Homo sapiens: one gene and its partners. The gene in region 1 interacts genetically with each later gene. Each region holds a gene or a part of one and is shown in the gene's direction. Other genes may lie near its edges.

What was found.
Region 2: of ATG7 (region 1) and PCYT2, changing one suppresses a phenotype caused by changing the other (phenotypic suppression), as found in Homo sapiens cells (one large-scale study listed by BioGRID).
Region 3: of ATG7 (region 1) and KCTD10, changing one suppresses a phenotype caused by changing the other (phenotypic suppression), as found in Homo sapiens cells (one large-scale study listed by BioGRID).
Region 4: of ATG7 (region 1) and ATIC, changing one suppresses a phenotype caused by changing the other (phenotypic suppression), as found in Homo sapiens cells (one large-scale study listed by BioGRID).

Annotation. Positions count from the first base shown.
Region 1 is NC_000003.12:11,362,217-11,367,467, forward strand, and holds part of ATG7 (ubiquitin-like modifier-activating enzyme ATG7), read left to right. Parts: intron 1-596; coding exon 597-712; intron 713-2,442; coding exon 2,443-2,518; intron 2,519-5,251. UniProt on the Homo sapiens protein: E1-like activating enzyme involved in the 2 ubiquitin-like systems required for cytoplasm to vacuole transport (Cvt) and autophagy.
Region 2 is NC_000017.11:81,904,900-81,908,399, reverse strand, and holds part of PCYT2 (ethanolamine-phosphate cytidylyltransferase), read left to right. Parts: intron 1-542; coding exon 543-627; intron 628-801; coding exon 802-846; intron 847-1,142; coding exon of another isoform or gene 1,143-1,196; intron 1,197-1,501; coding exon 1,502-1,640; intron 1,641-1,853; coding exon 1,854-1,936; intron 1,937-2,222; coding exon 2,223-2,300; intron 2,301-2,664; coding exon 2,665-2,730; intron 2,731-2,952; coding exon 2,953-3,018; intron 3,019-3,245; coding exon 3,246-3,334; intron 3,335-3,455; coding exon 3,456-3,500. UniProt on the Homo sapiens protein: Ethanolamine-phosphate cytidylyltransferase that catalyzes the second step in the synthesis of phosphatidylethanolamine (PE) from ethanolamine via the CDP-ethanolamine pathway.
Region 3 is NC_000012.12:109,467,301-109,470,800, reverse strand, and holds part of KCTD10 (BTB/POZ domain-containing adapter for CUL3-mediated RhoA degradation protein 3), read left to right. Parts: intron 1-1,072; coding exon 1,073-1,286; intron 1,287-3,500. UniProt on the Homo sapiens protein: Substrate-specific adapter of a BCR (BTB-CUL3-RBX1) E3 ubiquitin-protein ligase complex. The BCR(BACURD3) E3 ubiquitin ligase complex mediates the ubiquitination of target proteins, leading to their degradation by the proteasome.
Region 4 is NC_000002.12:215,343,059-215,346,558, forward strand, and holds part of ATIC (bifunctional purine biosynthesis protein ATIC), read left to right. Parts: intron 1-1,720; coding exon 1,721-1,813; intron 1,814-3,500. UniProt on the Homo sapiens protein: Bifunctional enzyme that catalyzes the last two steps of purine biosynthesis.

The DNA of each region.
Region 1 (5,251 bases):
ACTCTCTTTGGTTGAACCAGCAAAGGCTTGTGCTTAGAGCCATGTTGTAGAAAAAAAAAATACTTGTAGTAAACCCTAGAATCACACAGAGAGGTGATGCCCATGTTGTGAGAGGCACATAGGAACTGAGGGCCGCAGGAATAGTAAATTGTTGCTCCCATCTCACGGTCACTTTGAGGTGTTAGCTCAGTTAAAATGGCAGGGCAGAATCATTTGCACTTTTCAAATCATTGTTCCTTTCTGTGTCTCTGTCACTTAACTACCAAGCACAGTAGAACTGAATTGAGTCACTTAAAGGAACACATGATGCAGTTCCATTATATGAGGCAGCTAAGCCCTCATTTTTGGTTAATATCCCCCAATCTGTTTAGGCTACTGATCCTTTTTAGCATATCACCTCATTTAGTTACCTAAATTGTATATTTTGTTTATCTTGATAATCTCAAGAAATGATGTACTTGAGGCTGGATGTTCTTTGCCAACAATGAGCATCTGGTTATAATTTAAAGCTTTGTCACAGAGGATTTCATACTTGAGACAGCTAGAGTTGAATGGAGTAGAACGTTCTGCACACACCAATGATTGTTTCTTTGCAGTCAACCAGAGACCGGACCTTGGACCAGCAGTGCACTGTGAGTCGTCCAGGACTGGCCGTGATTGCAGGAGCCCTGGCCGTGGAATTGATGGTATCTGTTTTGCAGCATCCAGAAGGGTGAGTTTGCTAGTAGGAGATGAGTATTTAAACAAAGCTTTTGTAGGCAGTTGTTCATCAGTGTCTCCCATGGCCTTTTCTCAGTCTGACTTTACAGAGAATTTCACTATTTCACCCTCAAAAAAACAAGACTAGAAAAAGCAGGTCTGGTTCTTTGGGCTGAGATAACTTGGCATGTTTCCTTTGTGGCCACATTTCTGCATCTTTCCGGACAAAGTCACTATGGTTTATTTTATTTTTCCAACGCTTATATAGGGCTTACTTTGTGCTAGGCACTGTTCTAAGCACCTTAGAAATTTTGCCTCCTTCAATCTTTTTTTTTTTTTTTAACGAGACGGAATTTCGCTCTTGTTGCCCAGGCTGGAGTGTAATGGCACGATTTTGGCTCACTGCAACCTCTGCCTTCTAGGTTCAAGTGATTCTCCTGCCTCAGCCTCCCAAGTAGCTGGAATTACAGGCATACGCCACCATGCCCGGCTGATTTTTGTATTTTTAGTAGAGATGGGGTTTTGCCATGTTGGTCAGGCTAGTCTTGAACCTCTGACCTCAGTGATCAGAAGTGATTCACCCACCTTATCCTCCCAAAGTGTTGGGATTACAGGCGTGAGCCATTGCACCCGGCCTCCTTTAATCTTCATAGCAAACATATTAGGAAAGAACTATTATTATTAGTCGCAGTTTTGATGGGGAAATCAAGGCATAGTGAGGATAAGTAAGTGGCCAAATTTACATAGTAAATGGAAAAGCCAGGGTTTAGCTCAACCAGTGTGGCTCCAGACTATGTTTAATGACTTTGTTATGCTGTTTGCAATACAGGCAGCAGAAAATCGAATTTTTGAAAGATTTATTTTTCCAGTTCTCAGAAAGTCAATATGCAAATTAACATGAATATTCTATTTCTTGTGTGACTCAAAGCTTTCCTCAGCAGTTGAAAATTGTGGTTGTATATGTAACTAGTATGGGTACTCTGAGATAAATGAAAAGCGGGGCTTTTTTGTCTTCCTCTTTGTCATCCACCTTAGCTATCTGTCATTTAAGTTTATTGCCACTCTCTGACAGGAAGTATTTGGGATAAAATCTTTGAGAGCTGACTTTATGCTTCCTTGACACTGAGCCTCTGTCTGCCACATTTGCCCTGGTCATAGTTTAAACACCAGGTCCTGTGTCACATCTTTTTGGTGCCACAAGTATCACTCCATTGTTCAGAGAGTAGTGTATTAGTTCTGCCCAATTCATTCTTCACTTTTATTTCTTCCATTTCATTAGCATTTATATCAGCTCAAGAAGTTAAGGTTAGAAAATTTTCCACTTCAAATTTTCAGTACAGAAATGTGCTGTGATGTTTGACAAGACTATTTCATAGTAAGTGAGTTAATGTTTATTGGCCTCTGATATGCCGAACATTGCACTCGGCAGTTGATGTAGTAGATTCCTCATTTATTAATCAGAGCTCCCTCATTCCTACTTTATAGATGATGGATCTGAAGCACAGAAAAGTTAAGCAACTTGCCTATGGTCACAAGCTCAGGTCTTTCTGACTCCAAACCATGCATGTTTAAATTACTCTTCTTGCCCTTTGTCCCAGGGAAATTAGTTTTTTGCTAACTTACACTGCCCAGCAAGGGGCATTTTAGTTATCCTTATGAATCTTATGTAGATTTCTGCTAGATCATCCTCCCATGTGTTAAACTTGGATTAAATGAGCAGCTCTGATTGTTTCCTGTCCTCAGGGGCTATGCCATTGCCAGCAGCAGTGACGATCGGATGAATGAGCCTCCAACCTCTCTTGGGCTTGTGCCTCACCAGGTTAGTGATGTGGAAGTGAAATCACAATTCTTTTGGTACAGGGGGAAAGCATGTGGGGTCTCTTTGCCATTCCATCTGCCCAGCCCACTTCATATCCACCCTACTTACCCTGCAGCTGGGATTTCAATGGGAGAGCTTTCTGACCACCTGGAAGGTATTCCATTCTGCGGGATAGTGATGGGAGGAAATCACGAACGAGAAGCATTGCCCAGAGTCTTTGATGCGTTTTGTAAACTGACTAGAGGCCTCATAATGCAATAGGAACAGAAAAAACAGGCTTTGGAATCAGTCATACAATGGTTTAAATCCCAGCCCTGCCGTTATAAAGATGGCCTTCTTTGGCCAAGTCACTAAACTTCTCTGAGGCTTAGTTTTCTTATCTGTAACATAGAGAAGGTAATGCTGACATCACCTGGTAGTTGTATGGATTATGGATGGTTGCTAGAAAGGGCTCAGCAACAGTGTATATCATAGGCCCTCAACAAACAATGCCTGCTGTTTCTTTACTGTTGCTTGTTATTATTATTGACTCTGAACCCAAATAGAAAACCTTTATAGGCAGGCATGAGAAAAACATTAGAAGCATGCAGGGTCACCAAAAAGTGGGGTGTCTTTTCAGAAAAAGAATCCAAAGCATCATGAGGAAGTTCCATCCCTTAGGGAGTAAAAAGAAAAAGGCAGTGGGATGATCTTTTAGAATTCATGTTGCCTCTTCAGTCATTTTCATTACTATATTTTTGGGAGATTGAAGAGGTTTTCCAGTCTTATTTGGAAATCATTTTTTTTTAGATTCCATGTATGTATCCTCTCCTGTAATGTGACTGCTGTTCCCATCAGTGAAATCGTGATGGTGCCCACCAGTCCTATCTGGTGATTTGCAAGGACAGACTCAGACGAGTGCAGAGAGCAGAGTGACTCAGCTCATGCTTGTCTCTCTCTTCCTCCTCGCCACCCACCTTCTGCCAGCTAGGGCGGCACTGTCATATTCAGTTTAGGATGAGAATCAGAAGAGGGGAAACGACTTCTTCATGGTCACAGAGACTTAGTGGATGAGCCACAATCCATACCTAAACTTGGCAGTCTGACAAATGTTCTTTCAAAGGTCTTGTGAGTTGAAAGATCCGTGGCCTGCATGTTGGGAGATTTTGCTTCCTGTTGGTACCCCAGCCCCCTTGCACAAAACCACCCATAATAGAACTTGTGGGCCGGGCGCGGTGACTCATGCCTGTAATTCCAGCACTTTGGGAGGCCGAGGCGGGTGGATCACGAGGAGAGGAGTTTGAGACCAGCCTGACCAACATGGTGAAACCCCGTCTCTACTAAAAATACAAAAATTAGCTGAGCGTGATAGTGTGCACCTGTAATCCCAGCTACTCAGGAGGCTGAGGCAGGAGAATCGCTTGAACCCGGGAGGTGGAGGGTTGCAGTGAGCTAAGATCGCGCCATTGCACTGTGGCCTGGGCGACAGAGTGAGACTCCATCTCAAAAAAAAAAAAAAAAAAAATAGAACTTGTAGAGTTCACTTAGCCTCCCAGAGTCTCAGTTTCCAAATCAAGAAAAGCAGGTGCTTTACTTTGTGTCCAGGATTACATCTGACACGGCCTTGAAAACCACAAAACACTATGAAAATGTGCCCCCCTCTGTCCCCCACACACAAGGTGGCATTTTTTTTTGACATGCATGTGTTAATCTTTTCTACAGAGACATTTCACGTAGGACCCAAAAGACGCGGTAATAACCATCTATCATAAGGAAGCTGATCTCCAGAGCCTACCTCTGCTATTTATGCTGTCGTATCTCATTTGAATCTTTCCCAAGTCTCCCGCCTTCTTCTGACCTTGAGATGTGCCCTCATCTCCTTTACAGACTTTATATTGAGAAGGGCCTTAATTAAATTTTCAGTCATGCCCCTGCACTGGTTTCCTTCTTTAAGTCCTTTATGTTAAATTACTGCAGTTGTAGTTTTCTCAGTGCTGAGGCCAGAGGGCAAAACAGTCTCTTTATAGAAGGGGCCCAGTGTCAAAATGCATGTGCCCATGTTTTTAAAGTACTATGGCAACTAATCCCTCTCGGTGTTATTTATCCCCATTGAGCCTCAGAATTATTTGTCATTCACCAACTCTTCTAGTTCTTTCTCCTCGTTTTCAAATGTCTGAAGGATTATTTTGGTTGTTGGCCATCTCTTCATTTGCCCTTTTCAAAGACTGAAGAATAACGCAGCCATATATGGGAAAAGCTGTGTGTGTGTGTGTGTGTGTGTGTGTGTGTGTGTGTGTGTGTTTACTTGCTTACATTGTTTCAAGTTTCAAGCCTTTATTTTTAGCTACTTTCTAAGAAAGAAAGTGGAGAAAGAACTTTAAAAATTAATCAGGGTTGTGTGGTCCCCATGTATAGGCTTTAAACAACTTTTTTCCCCCTAAGTGGAGTGAGTCCATTTATGCAACCATGTTTTGATTAGGGGACCATCGTTTCCACGTTTCCACAAAAACACTGGGCTGTGTTGCAATGCCCTGTTGCAAACTCAGCACTTCCCTCCTCCTCTTCCTGGCTCCTAGAGACAAATGATTTCCTGTTGGAGAGGAACTTGGTAAACTCCTTTGTGTACTTTGTATGCAAAGAAGACCAGTGAAGTTTACTGGGCTCATTTTTCTCAGTTCCCAAGAGGAGAAGTTTTATTAATTGGCCCCTGTGGAAGAGATGTAGTAGAAAAGTGATAGTCCTTGGACTGAGAAT
Region 2 (3,500 bases), on another chromosome or scaffold:
GGCCTGGAGGCCCTTGCCATTTGGTGCTGCAGACCCATGGCCCCAGGGCTCCAAAGGCACAGCTTTGTGAGGTGGCAGCTGTTGAGCTCGGGGGACGTGGCTGGCACTGCTGGGGAGCTGGCACTATATCTGAATTACCAGACGTCAGGGACATGAGGCCAGTGGCTCCCGCATGAGATGCTGCAGCTGAGAATTCACTCAGCTGCAGATGCTCAGCGGGCAGGACGTGGGTGTGAGGGAGGCAGGAAGCAGAGCTGCTACCCCAGTGCCCATCCTCTCCCTGGCATTGCACACCTGGGCCCCAGCAAGGGTCCTTTTCTGTGCTCCTGCCACTCCCTTCAGTCAATAAAAGCGTGGAGGCCTTCCCCATGTTCCCAACCCAGGTTTTCTGTTATGGCCTTGCACAGGAAGGGGACCCTCAGTCTTTGGGGCAGCCGTGGGTTCTGCCACAGCAGGGCTGCTAGTGTCCCTAGTGGTGGTAGCAGGAGGCAGAGCCTTGCGAGTGTCCCAGGATGAGACCCCACTCCCACTGTGTCCCCCAGAGAATGCAAGCGCACGCAAGGGGTGTCCACCACAGACCTCGTGGGCCGCATGCTGCTGGTAACCAAAGCCCATCACAGCAGCCAGGTGAGTCGGCGGCGGAATCCCCGAGGCCCCTGGGTCGAGGTCTCCAGGGGAAAGGAGGGGCACCTCCCTGCCCTCTCAGGGTCCTCCTGCCCACTGCTCCCCATCCCCAGCCGGTTCTGGGGTGGCCACGCCGGGAGGGCAGGCCCCTCAGCCCTGCTCTGACCTTCTGTGCAGGAGATGTCCTCTGAGTACCGGGAGTATGCAGACAGTTTTGGCAAGGTGAGTGCGGCTGTGCAGGGAGAGCTGAGCACGCAGCTGCAGGGGGCTCCCCCGGCCACCTGTCCCAGCCATCCCTTGGGGAAAGGCCAGCCCAGAGCCTCACCCTCCTCCCTCTGTCCCTGGCACTGACCAGGCACTGACTGCCAGGTTTGGCTCACTGGTGGATGCTGGGAGGGAGGGCAGGCGGGTGGTGGCACCGGCTGGCCGGTCACGGCAGCCACTGCTTGGAGGAGCAAGGATTTGCCTGTGGACAGGTGGCCTCTAACCAAGTGGCCTGGCCCTCTCTCCCATTGTAGCCCCCTCACCCGATACCCGCCGGGGACATACTTTCCTCAGAAGGCTGCTCCCAGGTGACCAGACAGTGGTCTCAGGGTACCAGGTCCCTCCCAAGGGCTGTGTGCACCTGCCACAGGGCTCCTTGCCTCCTCCTGGTGGTCGCTTGCTGGGCTGAAGTGGTGTCTGCTGCGGTGCCTGCTGTGGTTGTGGGGTGGCGCCACAGTCCCACCTGCCACCTGGCCTGGCAGTGTGTCCCCTGCCCGAGATGACTGGCTGGAAATGGGATTGCTGGCAGGTGACAGCTGAGGGTTTGGTGACCTGGTGAGGGCAGCACCTGGGAGGCCTCCCCCGCCAACCTGCTCCCTCTCTTGGCTTGCAGTGCCCTGGTGGGCGGAACCCCTGGACCGGGGTATCCCAGTTCCTGCAGACATCTCAGAAGATCATCCAGTTTGCTTCTGGGAAGGAGCCCCAGCCAGGGGAGACAGTCATCTATGTGGCTGGTGCCTTCGACCTGTTCCGTATCCTCTGGGCCTCTGCTGCTCCCCTACATGTGCCACATGGGGTGGGACCCGGGGGCCTCACTTGACTCCTTGGGGCCCCCAGACTGGGCTGGCTGGTTTGCAGGGGAGCAGCTGTCAGCAGGGAGGATGGCGGGGAGGCCCTTGGGCATGAGCTGTCAGGGAGCTGCTCCCTGTCATCCCCATCCCGACTGCTTCTTAACCTGGGTGCAGACATCGGGCATGTGGACTTCCTGGAGAAGGTGCACAGGCTGGCAGAGAGGCCCTACATCATCGCGGGCTTACACTTTGACCAGGTCACTGCCTTCTTGCTCCCTGGGCCCCTGGGCAGCTGATGGGCCCTCGAGGGGCCCTAAGCGTTGCTGTTAGGTGCAGGTGGTCTCTGGGAAGGGGCCCCAGGTGAAGTCACAGGAGACCCTGGGGGGTGATCGTAGGCTTCTGGGGTCCAGGGCTGTCCTGTCTGGGGCATCCCCACAAGGGCGAGCAACCTCCCCGACTTCTTCCCATGAGGGACAGCCGGGAGGGGCACACCCTGTCCCCCCAAAAAGTCTCCGGGCTGAGCTAGCCGCACTCTGGCCGCAGGAGGTCAATCACTACAAGGGGAAGAACTACCCCATCATGAATCTGCATGAACGGACTCTGAGCGTGCTGGCCTGCCGGGTGAGTGGGGGCCAGGAGCCAGCCCAAGGATGGGGAGACATTCCCACAACATCCCCCCTACTAAGGGCCTCCCTGAGCCAGGGCAGGGGGGCTTGGGTCACTGGCAGAGCTGCACCCAGCACCCCGAGTTCTGTGGCACCTGCCCATACCTGTTTGTTGAGGCATGAGGAGGGGTGGTCAGGTCTCCAGATGCTGTTCCTTCTTGTCTCATGGAGGAGCCCCAGGGGTCCCCAGCCTGCCCAGCCCATCCCTGCTACTCACTGGCAGCCCCGCCCCATGTCTGAGCCGTCTCTCACCACCCTGTGGCCCTGGCTTACCAGTAGCAGGGACCGAGCAAGTCTTTCTGCCCCCACTGTCCCCACAGTACGTGTCAGAAGTGGTGATTGGAGCCCCGTACGCGGTCACAGCAGAGCTCCTAAGTCACTTCAAGGTGAGGCTCCGCATGGGCTCACCTCGTTCCCTCTGTTCACCTCTGTTCCTGCATGGGCTGGGAATGCAGGCTGGCTGTGGGCTCCTAGGCGGGGCCCAGGAGGTACCTGGGCTGAGGAAAGGGCAGGGTCAGCTCTCCCAACCCCCGGGGCCTGTGCTGGGCTGTGGGTGGCGACGGCCGCTGCCTCCCCGGGGAGGGCTCCTGACCCCACTCCTTCTCCAGGTGGACCTGGTGTGTCACGGCAAGACAGAAATTATCCCTGACAGGGATGGCTCCGACCCATACCAGGTGGGTCATGCTGGCCCTTGCTGGGCACAGGGGTTGCCATTGGCACCTCCCAGCCATTTAATGACTCACTGTGCCTGCCTGGGAAACGGGCATGGTGGCGCAGCTGCTCCGACTGCACCACTCCCATGGGACCCTGGGCGCTGGTCTCCCTCTGGGGCAGGGCATCAGATGGGTCTTGGGGAGGTCAGCAGGGACCTTCATCCCGCTCCTCCTCTCTGGACCCCCAGGAGCCCAAGAGAAGGGGCATCTTCCGTCAGATTGACAGTGGCAGCAACCTCACCACAGACCTCATCGTCCAGCGGATCATCACCAACAGGTGCAGTTGGGTGGGGGCACCTCGGAGCCGCCTCATGGGCGCTCTCCGCTAGACTTACCGTGCCCTCCCCCTCGGAGCCGCCTCATGGGCGCTCTCTGCTAGACTTACCCTGCCCTCTCAGGTTGGAGTATGAGGCGCGAAACCAGAAGAAGGAAGCCAAGGAGCT
Region 3 (3,500 bases), on another chromosome or scaffold:
AGCCAGGATAGGGGATCTTTGGTCATTTTTGTATTTTGGATAATGTTTATGTTTTTGTCTGTGTCCGGACATGATGACTGAATGGTCCTGTTTTTGTCTTGTCGCAAGGGCACAGAGTGGCCTTGTCTGAGGGTGATGTGCTGTGAAAAACTGTTGATGTTCAATGGGAATGGTAGGGCCAGCCGTGGGGGCTACCCCAGATTCAGCAAAGATTCTGCCCACCCTTGCACATCTCCACCTCTACAGTTTTACCTGTTCATTTCAGACATGTTTGCTCTGAGTACACATGTGCCGGATACCAATCTCACTTTCCAGGCCTGCGTAAATCAGCCACTGTATCCATTTCTTTGAGATGTACAGAGAGTCAGCCATGCTATCAGGGAGATGGTAGTGGGATCTTGCTCTTTTGGGCAGCACTAGTCTAGGAGGTCTAATTTTGCAATAACTTGGTTCCAAAAGTTTCCATGTCTGTTGTTTAGTCCTCAGAAACACCTTCTCCCTACAGGAAGTGATAGGAGTGCCAGCTGGAATCCCATTCAACTTCATAAAGCTTATTTCATCTGTGATGCAGCTGAAAAATGACACTTAGCTAGCTATTGAGTGGTACATGGCAATAAGGAAATGTAAAGAGACCTGGGCAGTGCTTTAGGCTGTTTTAGGGTGCAGCCAGGGTGTTCATGTATACAGGTGCTAGGCAGAAAGGAAGTGCTTATAACACAAGAGTTAGGGGCACCCTTGTGCCTGCAGGGTCGACAGGCAGGGTCAGTGTATGAGGCTTTTTGGGTGGGTTTTGGGACAAACTAGGGGATGCATGGCCCTCTCTAGGGGTCATCCAATACCCCAGCTCTGACCAGTTGTTCCCCTGCTAGCCCAGTTGGCCTCTGATTTTAGGAGAAGCCAGAAGTCCAGATTTTTCTGTGAGCTCTCCTTAGTTGTCCACATTGGAAGCAAACTTTTAAATGCTGTGTATGCGTGGCCCAAGCAAAACACATCTGGAGGCCAGATTGAATCCACAGGCTGAAAGCAGTCAACCAGGCCTGATGTCATGACCCTGTATCCTCTCCACTGGCAGGAAGAGATGTCAGGAGAAAGTGTGGTGAGCTCAGCGGTGCCAGCGGCTGCTACCCGCACCACTTCCTTCAAGGGCACGAGCCCCAGCTCCAAATACGTGAAGCTGAATGTGGGTGGAGCCCTCTACTATACCACCATGCAGACGCTGACCAAGCAGGACACCATGCTGAAGGCCATGTTCAGCGGGCGCATGGAAGTGCTCACCGACAGTGAAGGTAAGCTCACCCACCATGTGCCTGCCTCTGGCCATGCGTTATGTGGTCAAGGAGGGCTTCCCTGAAGAAGTGACATTTAAGTCGAGACCTGAAGATGTGTAGGAGGCAGCTTGTTGGGGACTCCCACCATCTTGACTTGGTCGTTGATTTGCTATGTTACTTTGAGAAAGTCACTTCCTCACCCAGGGCTTAGCTTGCTTATCTCTGCCATGCTTCTGTGACTTCAGAGTGAAACTCAAGCCTGGGGGAGAGAGAGGTATCTTCCCTGGACCCTTGTCCTCCCAAGATGGGGTCTTGACAAAGACTTGCCAACCTGGGTTTCAGTCTCAGCTCCCCATTAGTATCTGGTGATCCTAACCAAGTGGCCGAAGCTTTTGGTCTCATTTTCTTCCTCTGGTGAAATGGGCATGACAATACCCTCCCCCGTGGGGCCATCGGCACATAGTCAGTATTCAGTGCATGTGTGTATATGTGTGTGTGTAGATAGATAGATAGATATACACACACACACACACGTTTTTCTTTTTCTTGTGGAAAGTCATGTTATTAAAAGGCAAAGAATCGGCTGGGCACAGTGGCTCATGCATGTAATCCCAGCACTTTGGGAAGCTGAGGCGGGCGGATCACGAGGTCAGGAGATCGAGACCATCCTGGCTAACAAGGTGAAACCCCATCTCTACTAAAAATACAAAAAATTAGCCGGGCGTGGTGGTGGGTGCCTGTAGTCCCAGCTACTCGGGAGGCTGAGGCAGGAGAATGACGTGAACTCGGGAGGCGGAGCTTGCAGTGAGCTGAGATCGCGCCACTGCACTCCAGCCTGGGCGACAGAGCGAGACTCCGTCTCAAAAAAAAAAAAAAAAAGGCAAAGAATTGTTGAGAGGGGCATTGTCATAACTACTTCCTACTCACCTGGAATGATCAAAGAGCCCCTGACAACAGGGCTCCATCCTTACCTGGCTGGGTTTGCGTGCAGGTCACATGAGGTTTAAAAATAGTACCATCCTTCATTCCTTGGCCTGAGATTGCTTAAGACCAGGCCAGGGCACAGCCTGGCTTGACCTTGACCCCGCCTTCCTGTTTCTGAGACTGGTCTTCTGTGCTGCTGCCCTACCTTTCCAGGGACATTGACTTGGGAGGGTGGGTGAGTTTTCACATAAGCGGGTGGGATTGGGGGACCTAAGCCTGGTGTCCCACAGTTAATTCTCTGATCCTAAGAGGGCTGAGGCTTGGGCTACCCACTGGTGAGGACATTCCTCTCTGTGTCCTGGGGAAGGCCAGGGTGTGGGGCTGGAGGTTCTGCTTCCTGTGAACTCCGGTTTCTGTTCAGGCAGCAGCGAACTGAGGTTGGAGCCCCAAAGCTGCCATCTCACACTTAGCTTTTTATGAGTGGGAGGATCCTCTTTGCTGTGCCACACCCCACATGGCCCGAGAGTATCTGTGGAAATCAAGACAATAGCACCCCCGCTGCTGGAGGAAGCAGGCATTATCTGAGAACCAGGATTGTTGTGGTTTTTCTCATACCCTACCCACTCTCTGGAGGGGCTCAGGAAAGGCTGCTGAGTTGCCTCGAAAGCTGAGGCTCTTCTCCTCGAAAGGCCTCGCCTTGGTGGCCTGATGCCATATCAAAAAAGAAACGGACTCCTCTGTCCCCCTGTCCCCGACTGGACAGAGCATACGAGTGGTACTGGCAGGACTGCTCACCTTCTAAATCCCTGCTATGAGATGTTTTTCTCCTGGTGCTGCCTGGAAAACACAGGTTCTCGGGGGACACAGTGTCATTTTGACACTGCAAACTGTGACTTGTTTCATGTCACCGGAGCTCAGCCCCTGCTTCATATCATTATGAAAAGCTAATGGTATGGCATTTTATGGGGCATTCTTTTCTCTTTTTTTGAGACAGGGTCTTTCTCTGTCACCCAGGCTGAAGTGCACTAGGGCCATCATAGCTCACGGCAGCCTCCATCTCCTGGGTTCAAGCAATCCTCCCGCCTCAGCCTTCTGTGTAGCTGGGAATACAGGCATGCACCACCAAACACAGCTAATTTTTAGAATTTTTTTCTGGAGATGGGGCCTCACTATGTTGCCCAGGCTGGCCTCGAACTCCTGGGCTCAAGCCATCCTCTCACCTCAGCCTCCCAAAATGCTGGGATTACAGGCGTGAGCCACCACGCACAGCCGATGGGTATTGTTTCATTTAATCCTCACCATAACCCT
Region 4 (3,500 bases), on another chromosome or scaffold:
ATTGTTTTCCAGAGTGGCTTGTACCATTTTGTATTCCCACCAGCAATGGATGAGTGATCCAATGTCTCTGCATCCTTACTAGCTTTTGGTATTGCTACTTTTTTTTTTTTTTTAAAGACATGGGATAGTTGTGTAGCAATCTCTCACTGATTTTAATTTGCATAATAGCTCATGATGTTGAACATTTTTTTGTGTACTTATTTGCTACATGTGTATCCTTTTTGGTGAAAATGTCTGTCTTTTGCCCATTTTCTAATTAAATTTTTGATTGTTACTGAGTTTTTTTGTTTTGTTTTGAGATGAAGTCTCGCTCTGTCACCTAGACTGGAGTGCAGTGGCATGATCTTGTCTCACTGCAGCCTCCACCACCCGGGTTCAAGTGGTTCTCCTGTCTCAGCTTCCCAAGTAGCTGGGATTACAGGAATGCGCCACCACACCTGGCAAATTTTTATATTTTTAGTAGAGATGGGGTTCACCATGTTGGTCAGGCTGGCCTGGAACTTCTGACCTCAGGTGGTCCACCCGCCTTGGCCTCCCAAAGTGCTAGGATTACAGGCATGTGCCACTGCGCCTGTCCTGTTACAGAGTTTTTAAAGTTTTTTTATGTTTTAGGTGCTAGTTTGTTGTTGGATATGAGGTTTGTTAATAATTTTCTCCTAGTTCGTAGCTTGTCTTTTCATCCTCTTTAATGAGGAATCTTTTACAGAGGAAAAGTTCTTAATTTTACTGAAGTCAAATTTATCAACTTATCTGTTGGCTGTAGCAAATATCCTCTGTCCATTTAGCATACAGACGTGGACTATCATCCTTCTTTTCCATTTGTATTCATGCCTGATACTAAAGATAGTGATATTTTTGGGCGTTATTCTTGTTGTTCTATTTGGACTGGTAATTCCTAATGGTTTTTGAACAGTTTCAACTTAAGTTATTCTAAACAAAAGAGAAAATGATCGTAATTTGATTTTTCCAAAGTCTTGGCTGTCTGTGTGCATCATAACGATTTGTGATGTCTATGAAACAATTCTCCGCATTGGTTCTGAACGTAAATTTTACCATGTCTCCAGATATTTAAAAGTACTCTGGTCAAGAAAATATTGTTTGTCAGTTTTGGAATGGATATGGTAGTTCTTACCTCATGTGATATAAAAAGGCTTAATCCACAATTGCTACAAAATAACATGAGTTTGTGTCTATGGATGCATTGTGCTAAGTTCCACCCCAAATGTGTTAAATATTTAAGTAAATCATGGTAGTGTGTAGGAGAACAGTTAATTTCCCTCTGTCATTTGAGTGGTATAACTATGTTGTAGGTCTTTTACATTAAATAGAACTAAGAAACTTAAAGTTGGCCAGGTGTGGTGGCTCACACCTGTTGTAATCCTGGCACTCTGGGAGGCTGAGGCACGTAGATGACTTGAGCTCAGGAGTTCGAGACCAGCCTGGCCAACATGGTGAAACCCCATCTCTACTAAAAATACAAAAATTAGCCAGGCATGGTGGTGCATGCGCCTGTAATTGAAGTGTGAGAATCTCTTGCACCCGGGAGGTGGAGGTTACAGTGAGCCGAGATTGTGCCGTTGGAGATTGTCCCATTGTGCCTGGGAGACAGAGTGAGACTCTGACTCAAAAAAACCACAAAAAATAATATTTAAAAAAAGAAGCTTAAAGTTAAATGAGTTTAAAAGGCCCCATGCAATTTACCATTGTGTATGTGTTTCAGTTGCCAGAGTCTGCCCTCCGAGACCTCATCGTAGCCACCATTGCTGTCAAGTACACTCAGTCTAACTCTGTGTGCTACGCCAAGAACGGGCAGGTAAGTGGGCTGTTGGACTCGCCTTCGGGGGACTGTTGTTTTACGAAATGATATTTAAACATCCGTCTGCCTTAGATATTGGACAGCTTGAAAGGGAATATTTGCCAAATGTTTGTCTTTTGTGTTTGTCAGTGTTTCCTCAGTACCCTGGTGGGCTGTTAAAACTAATGATGATCAGAAAATATCTTTGGAACCAGGTACTCAAAGTAGTTGTGCTGCTTCTTGCCTTGAATAGGTTGGCACATTTTGGATTAGTGAGACTCTAATAGCTGTTACAAAACTGGATTATTTCCTTTCCTTTTCCCCCATTGGTATTATTTCCAGGGAAGAGGAGGTAAGTTACGGTACTGCCACCCACCAGCCTATATTTTTGCAGCCTGCAGGGTATTTTCACATTATTTCTTATGTTGTCTTATCAAGAATCTGCTGAGTAGAAAGACTGCTAGACTAGGAGTTAACTTCATCTTTAAAAAGTTAGGTTCATTGAGGCATAATTTGTATACAGTAGAATTCACCTTTTTAAAGTACAGTTTGACCAGTTTTCACAAATTTCACAGTATGTGACCGCTGCCACAATTAAATACCAAACATTTCTCACTGTGTGACGTTAAGCAAGATATTACACTTCTTTCCTAGTGTCCCGAGCCTCAGAATACAAGATGGAGCTGGTTCATCTCTGAGGTCTCTGCTAGCCTTTTCTTCACCTGGTGTCCTGAGCTTATCTCTTGGCATTTGTTAAATTATTTGGCCCACAAGTGACAGGGAGGTGGGTGGATATGAATTAGCCTATGGCCTGGAAGACCCCAGATTGCCAGTCTCTGTAGTAACAAACTCCTGGGAGATTGTGTCTACTGGTGTCAGGTTCTAAGAAGTTCTGTAAGTCCATGTAGAATGAGTGCTTCATTCCTGATGTTGAGGAGGAGGCGGCTGCCCAGGTATTTGTGGTCTCTTTTATTCTCTTGTAGCTGTGGGCAGGGTTGCCAGCAGCTGTGCTCAGAAAGAGATGGACTGTTGGGCAGACAGCTTAGGGGCTGTTCATTATAGGAACTAAAACCAGAAAACACACCTGTGCATTTAAGTCCTTGTTGCTTAGAATTCAACCCATAGAAATAGAGGAAAGAAGGAAGAACATTTGTACCTGGCGGAATTGTTTCTACTTTTAGCTACCCATGTCAGATCCTTATCTCAATTTCTGAGAGTTGATATTTTAACTGTAATTTATACACTGGGGCAAACAAAAGACTTTCAAGTAACCATAGTTATTTTTGTGGTCATTAGTTTTATTTATTTATTTATTTATTTTTTATAGAGACAGGGTCTTGCTCTGTTGCCCAGGCCAGAGTACAGTGACATGATCATAGCTCATTGTAGCCTTCGACTCCTGGCCTCAAGCGGTCCTACCACTTCAGCCTCCTGAGTAGCTGGGACTGCAGGTGTGCGCCACTACCCCTAGCTATTTTTTAATTCTTATTTTTTGTAGAGATGAGATGTTGCCATCTTGCCCAGGCTGGTCTCCTGAGCTCAAGCAATCCTTCTGTCCTAACCTCACAAAGTGCTGGGATTACAGGCATGAGCCAGTGCACCCAGCATTGGTCATTTATTTTAACTTTTTTTTTTTTTTGACCTCAAACCATCAATTTTATTGAATTGTAGATTATTAATAGTCATATGTCACATATCACTGAAG